2 linked regions of the Homo sapiens genome follow. The protein of the gene in region 2 purifies or fractionates together with the protein of the main gene of each other region. This does not show direct contact. Each region holds a gene or a part of one and is shown on either strand. Other genes may lie near its edges. The genes, in order: BBS4 and BBS12.

Evidence for each region.
Region 1: the proteins of BBS12 (region 2) and BBS4 purify together in Homo sapiens (co-immunoprecipitation; one large-scale study listed by IntAct). This does not show direct contact.

Annotation. Positions count from the first base shown.
Region 1 is NC_000015.10:72,727,471-72,731,292, forward strand, and holds part of BBS4 (BBSome complex member BBS4), read left to right. Parts: intron 1-469; coding exon 470-524; intron 525-2,145; coding exon 2,146-2,214; intron 2,215-3,822.
Region 2 is NC_000004.12:122,739,046-122,742,867, forward strand, and holds part of BBS12 (chaperonin-containing T-complex member BBS12), read left to right. Parts: intron 1-327; exon of another isoform or gene 328-1,674; intron 1,675-2,837; 5' UTR 2,838-2,847; coding exon 2,848-3,822. UniProt on the Homo sapiens protein: Component of the chaperonin-containing T-complex (TRiC), a molecular chaperone complex that assists the folding of proteins upon ATP hydrolysis.

The sequences.
Region 1 (3,822 bases), on a different chromosome or scaffold from region 2:
TTAAGTGGAGAGAACAGCATTAGGGGCCTTGGGATCCTAAATTACATAGAAAATTATGCTGCCTGGCATTGTGAGCACAATGAGGATAGAAAAAAAATTCCACAAGAGAGGACTGGTGAAACTGTGTGTGTTCTAGGCTGACTTGGTTTATAAAGCATTGTTCTTTAATTTTATCAGTGTGACCAAGACAGTCATGCAAAACATTCTATAGGTTCTTTCTTAGGACTTTTACCCTAAGAAAGGAATCTGAATTCTAAGCCTCATTTTTCTTGCTGAGCAGTTCTCCTTATCACCAGGGTTGAGATGACCTACTTTTGATGGCAATTCCCAAATTGCCTTCAGGTATTTCCACGGGGAGGAAGAGGCTCAGTGGGGTCTGTCAAGTATTGCACGAGGGCATATTACTGTGCATGTGTCTTCGTGTTTCTCATCTACATCTTGTTTCCCTCTGAGCATCTCTATGTTGCAGGTTCTCACCAGAAAATACAGAGCTTCTTACAACTTTAGGATTACTCTACTTACAGGTAATGAAAACTCTGTACTCATTCATGCACTGATGTTAGAAATGGTTTTGGGTTTGTGTGTATGGTGGTTTTCCTGCATTCTGATATTTATTTTATTAAAGGTCATATAAAGTTCATGAACTACACTCTCTCTATTCGATACTCTTTGCTAAAGGAATTAATTTTCTGCATTTAAATTGGAAGCAATTCTATTTTAGCCTAGTGCAATTATAATTCTTATCTAGGCTGGGTGTGGTCTCATGCCTGTAATCCCAGCAATTTGGGAGGCTGAGGCTGGTGGATCACTTGAGCTCAGGAGTTGGAGACCAGCCTGGGTAACATAGTGAGACCCTGTCTCTACAAAAAATAAAAAAATTAGCCAGGCATGGTGGCATGCTTCTGTAGTCCCAGCTACTTGGGAGGCTGTGATGGGAAGATTGCTTGAACTCGGAAGGCAGAGGTTGCAGTGAGCTGAGATTGAGTCACTGCACTCCATCCTGGGTGACAGAGCCAGATCCTGTCTCAGAAAAAAAAAAAAATTCTTATGCTATCCAGGAAAGAGCATATATGAGAAATAACTCTGGTCTTGGAGGCTGTTATTTTGTTGTGAGGAGAGAAACAGATACAAGTGAGCACTTAGGGCTTTGGGGCAAAGCCATTTCTTTTGATCTTTCTTCCCAGCCAGAGTCTTATTGGAAAGAGAGAAGGCAAAGTATACTTTTATCTAGAATAAGAAGTTTTCTGTCCCCTCAACATTCCTGAATGTGAATGGGATTCTTTTAGCTCCATTGATTCTCTGGCTGAGGACCCAGGGCCCAGGTATCCAAGGGGCTTTTCCCTCTTCCCCAATATACACATTTGCCAAGTTCCTTGGTCAGCTGATTCTGCCTCCAGCCCTGCCTCTGTGGTGGCCTTTATGTCTATTTCATTTTTCTTTAAAAGGAATCAGGAGCTTAACCCTGGGTCTTCCTGGGCTTTGGCTTGGGAGGTTGGCTCCACGGGAGATGAGGATACCCAGCTCATTTCCTGCAAAGAGGCATTAATGTGGAACAGTACTAGTGTGGCAGAGATGGTTCTTATCAAATAGATACTTTGACCTTATCAGGTGACAAATTAACAAAAATAGAAGGAAAACCATGACTGGGGATTTTTAGTTTTCTTTCTTTATTATCTGGTAACTGTAGCTGCTTTTTTTTTTTTTTTTTTTTTTTTTAAAGTCAAGAGAACTCAAAAAAGCCAGAGCATTTCTGTTCTGGGTGAGGTTGGCCAGACTGTTTTTTTTTTTTTTTTTTTGGAGACGGAGTTTCACTCTTTTTGCCTAGGCTAGAGTGCAATGGCGTGATCTCGGCTCACTGCAACCTCTGCCTCCTGGGTTCAAGCGATTCTCCTGCCTCAGCCTCCCAAGTAGCTGGGATTACAGGCATGTGCCACCATGCCTGGGTAATTTTGTATTTTTAGTAGAGATGGGGTTTCTCCATGTTGGTCAGGCTGGTCTCGAACTCCTGACCTCAGGTGATCCACCCACCTTAGCCTCCCAAAGTGCTGGGATTATAGGCATTAGCCACCACGCCTGGTCTGGCCAGACTCTTTTAACTGCCGTCTCCTTGCTGATGTAAATTGTCTTGTTTGCTTTTTTTCCAAGCTCGGCATTTACCAGAAGGCATTTGAACATCTTGGCAATGCACTGACTTATGACCCTACCAACTACAAGGTATTACAGGCTGTGAAGGCTCTGGCCTTCATATAGACGGTCCCACTGCTCCTAGAGGTGATCTGACCCTGGAAAGCAAAGGAATAGCTTCTTAAATTTGGATACCTGAGAAATAGAAAAAATATAAATAAAAGGTGGCTCTTCTTATTTGAAAATAGTGTCAAGTATGCTCTACTTATCTTCTAAAAGTGCACATTTGTTATAATAGACGTGTAACCCCTGCAGAAGGCAGATCATAGTGCTAGTAAAGCTTATGTGTTACTTAGGAAATTAGCAATGCCTCCACAACTATTGTCAAAAATAAATCTGCGGCCCGGCGCGGTGGCTCACGCCTGTAATCCCAGCACTTTGGGAGGCTGAGGTGGGCAGATCACGAGGTCAGGAGATCGAGACCATCCTGGCTAACACAGTGAAACCCCGTCTCTACTAAAAATACAAAAAAATTAGCCGGGCGTGGTGGCGGGCGCCTGTAGTCCCAGCTCCTCGGGAGGCTGAGGCAGGAGAATGGCGTGAACCCGGGAGGCAGAGCTTGCAGTGAGCTGAGATCACGCGCCACTGCACTCCAGCCTGGGTGACAGAGCGAGACTCTGTCTCAAAAAAAAAAAAAATAAAAAATAAAAAAAATAAATCTGCTGGGCATGGTGGCTTATGCCTGTAATCCCAGCACTTTGGAATGCTGAGGCAGGAGGATCACTTGAGGCCAGGAGTTCAAGACCAGGCTGGGCCACATAGTGAGACCCCCATTTCTACAAAAAAAATTATCCAGGCATGGTGGCACACACCTGTAGTCCTAGCCACTCGGAAGGTGGAAGAGGGAAGATCACTTGAGCCCAGGAGTTTGAGTCTACAGTGGGCTATGATGGCACCACTATACTCCAGCCTGGGTGACAGAGACCCTGTCTCTAAAAAGAAACAATAATTATGTTGAAATGACTTCTAGAGTCCTAATGATTTGATACTACAACTTTTTTTCTAGATGTGACTTTGGGAATGAGAAGGAATAGCATCAAATGGATGAACATCATTGAGGAGATGCAGCAAGACAAGCTGTTTATTAAAGGATACAAACTGAATTCTGATTTAGGAAGTAACATTAGACTGTCAGCTCCCACCTTGATACCTTTCCTTAGAGAAATGAAAGGGCTGGGCTGATGAAGCCTAAAGCTGACTCGCCCTCTGTTCTACGGTAGAAAGAAATTTACCTTAAGTAGCCACGTACAGGTGTATTTCAGGTATCTAGAACACTTGGTATACCAAATAGGGGCTGCAGAGAACAGATTAAAGGAAGTTTTTACTTAAAGGGCTCTGGTATTCATTCTGAAATACTGACTTTCCTGGCTAGAAGTAGGAAACAGATGGGTAAAGCAAGTAACATTTTATCTTTTTTTTTTTTTTTTTTTTTTTTTTTTTTTGTGCTGTGCCAGAGAGCCACAGTGTAGAGTGCAAGGACATTCCTCAGGAACATTTGTCCCAATAGGTTGGATATATTTATGTCCCTGGAAGAAATTTTCCAGTCCCATCTATGCTGATGGGCCTGCTGAGTATAGACTCAGGAAAGCTGCCCCACTGCTACAGCCTTTTGGGAATGACTGAATGACTTTCTCTGTG
Region 2 (3,822 bases):
ACAGAGGCAGAGGTTAGAGTTATGCAGTCAGAAGCCAAGGACCACTAGGAGCAACTAGAAGCTGGAGGAAGCAAGGAAGGATTCTTCCCTTGATCCTTCAGAAGGAGCATGGACCTGCCAGCATTTTGATTTTGGGCTTCTAGACTCCAGAACTGTGAAAGAATAAATAAGTATTGTTTTAAGCTACCCAGTTGTTTGTGGTAATTTGGTATGGCAGCCCTAGGAAGCTGATGCAGTGAGGATGTGGAGAAATCAAAACCCTCATACATTGTTGGTGGGAATGTTCAGCTGTTATGGAAAACAGACAGTTCATTCAAAAGTTAAAGATATTTGCTCCTCCTTTTCATGCCTGTGGCTGGATGTCCCACAGCACTATAGGAAATGTGAGTCAGGCCTTTTGCATTAAGCAACCAAGAACTACAGACTCCACCTTTTCACCCAAATCATGAATGACCAGTGAAAAGCAACTTATTTCAGAGGAAGAAGCAGCCCTTGAAATGTTAAGGCTTGGGCTTGAAAGTTGAAGAGCAGGAATTCTCTCTTTCAAAGACCCTAGAGCACAAACCTTTGTGTGGCCAAGTGGGATCAGCCCTCAAGGGCACATGCCAAGGACAGAGCAGCCCATGTAGACAGCTTCGGAGGGTATGGGGATGTGGGGAGTTAGGGGTAGCTCCTCATTAACTATTTGTTGGGTGAGTATAAGGGCGAAGCTCAGTGGCAGTCAGCCACCTCTGCAATGACAAGCTGTCTCTCCCCTACATGTTTAGCATATATTATTAGAACACGTCCCATGCCCCCGCTCCCTTTAAGGCCAAGTAGAGAAATCTGGCAATAAAAGGCAAATGTGAGCATGCTTTCTCTAAGATGCATCATAAATGGTTTTCTTTAAGTGAATGAAGACTTTGACAGAGAAATATCTTTGTAAGCAAACATTAAGAATGCTGGCTGGGTGTGGTGGCTCATGCCTGTAATCCCAGCACTTTGGGAGGCCTAGGCAGGAGGATCGCTTGAGCCTGGTACTTCAAGACCAGACTGGGCAGCATGGCGAAATCCCATCTCTACAAAAAAAATAGAAAAATTAGCCGGGTATGGTGGCATGCACTTGTAGTCCCAGTTACTTGGGAGGCTGAGGTGGGAGAATCACCTAAGCCCAGGAGGTCGAGGCTGCAGTGAGCCATGCCACTGCACTCCAGTCTAGGTGACAGAGCGAGACCCTGTCTAAAAAATAAAAATAAAAAGAATGCTAATCATTTCTGAGTTCGCTGTGACTTGTAATACTGGGGATCTCCCTTGTAACACTGGAACTGAAAGACTGACGAAAGCTATGTCAAGCATTCATTATTCTGAAGAGGAGGAGAAATGCCACATACCTTTCCCATTGAACCTGTGGTGGAATAAATCCATGGTTGTGTCTTGCTTTGAACAGACTTTTGTTCTGAGCACTGCTCACGATGGATTTTTATGCTTCATTTTCATATCTCTCTGCACAATTAGATTGGGAGTTCCTTGAGGGCAGAGTATGTATAATCTTTGTCTTTGTAATCCCGGCAATTAACACAGTGCCTCCTGGTACATTGTAGGTGCTTAAGAAATACTCACTAAATGCATGAATGAATGAAACGAAGGAATGACTAGGAATGTTTGTAGTGCTATAATATATAATGGGATATACTCCAGTCTGGTACTTGTCTAGTCAGTCCTCTACGGTGTTATCAGAGTGGTAATATATCCAAAACATTACAATTATTATTGTTATTAAAACAAGAACTCATAAAACATGGTGCCAGACATTGTTCTAAGTACTATATTCACTCCTTATAATGACTATGAAATAGCTTCTATTATTATCCCTGTTTTTTAGATGTGGAAATTAAGGGATAAAGTACATAACTTGCTGAGGGCTATATAGCTAGTAAAGCGGTAGGATTAAGTTCACACCCAGACTTCTAGGTTTAGAGTACATGTTTTCAAACACTACATCAAGTTGTTTCTTGATCTTTTTTATTAAAAACATTTTAACGGTTCCCATTACAGGATCAAGTTTAAGTTACTTGCTATGGCACATAATGCCCTTCGTAAACCAGCTCATTTCCTCTTCTAGAGCTTCATCTGCTACTGTTCTCCACTACATGTTTTTTTTTGTTGTTGTTGTTTTTTCTGAGACTGAGTCTTGCTCTGTTGCCCAGGCTGGAGTGCAGTGGCGCCATCTTGGCTCACTGCAACCTCCGCCTCCTGGGTTCAAGCGATTCTTCTGCCTCAGCCCCCAAAGTAGCTGGGACTACAGGTGCGTGCCACCACACCCGGCCAATTTTTGTATTTTTAGTAGAGACGAGGTTTCGCCATATTGGCCAGGCTGGTCTCGAACCCCTGACCTCGTGATCCGCCCGCCTCGGCCTCCCAAAGTGCTGGGATTATAGGCATGAGCCACTGCGCCCAGCCGCTCCACTACATTTTTTATATTCTCATAAAACCAGGCTACTTCTATTTCCCTGAATACACTATGTTTTTTTCACATATATGTACATTTACTACTACCTCCTTCAACTTGTAACTCTTTCCAGTTATTTTTCAAGACTCATTCCAAGAATTGCTTTCTTCTGGAAACGTTGCCTACAGCCCTCATGCTTCATTTCCTCTGTTGGGTGGAGTGTTTCTCTTCCATTCCCCCATACCTTTATCATTAATAGAATAATAATACTGTATCATTGCACTGACCACTTTTCATGGAAATTATATGTACCTCAAAAGCAGGGAGCATATCTTGTTTTTATTTCTATATAGCATTTATAACTATGAATTATACTGAATAAAGTTACAAGTTTTTATTTTGTTTGCAGATCATGATACATGGTGATGGCTTGCAGAGTCGTAAACAAAAGAAGACACATGGGACTTCAACAACTTTCATCATTCGCGGAAACAGGAAGAACTTTCCTAGGCCCACTAAAATCATCCAAATTTATTATAGATGAAGAATGTCATGAAAGTGTATTAATCAGTTCAACAGTAAGGCTTCTTGAAAGTTTGGATTTAACCAGTGCAGTGGGACAACTTCTCAATGAAGCAGTTCAAGCACAAAACAACACATATAGAACTGGAATCAGTACTCTTTTGTTTCTTGTTGGTGCTTGGAGCAGTGCAGTTGAAGAATGTCTTCATCTTGGTGTCCCCATTTCCATAATAGTATCAGTAATGTCAGAAGGCTTAAACTTTTGTAGTGAAGAGGTAGTTTCTCTTCATGTACCTGTTCACAATATATTTGACTGTATGGACAGCACAAAAACATTTTCTCAACTTGAAACATTTAGTGTAAGTTTGTGTCCTTTTCTACAGGTCCCTTCAGATACTGATTTGATAGAGGAATTGCATGGTCTCAAAGATGTTGCCTCTCAAACACTGACCATTTCCAACCTTTCTGGGAGACCTCTTAAATCATATGAATTATTTAAACCTCAGACAAAGGTTGAAGCAGATAACAACACATCACGAACTCTGAAAAACAGCCTGCTTGCAGATACCTGCTGCAGACAGTCAATACTAATCCACAGTAGGCATTTTAATAGGACAGATAATACTGAAGGGGTAAGCAAACCAGATGGATTTCAAGAACATGTTACAGCTACTCACAAAACTTACAGATGTAATGATTTGGTAGAGTTGGCAGTAGGCTTGAGTCATGGAGATCACAGCAGCATGAAGTTAGTAGAAGAAGCAGTACAGCTGCAATATCAGAATGCTTGTGTGCAACAAGGCAACTGTACAAAACCATTTATGTTTGACATTTCAAGAATTTTCACTTGCTGTCTACCAGGCTTACCTGAA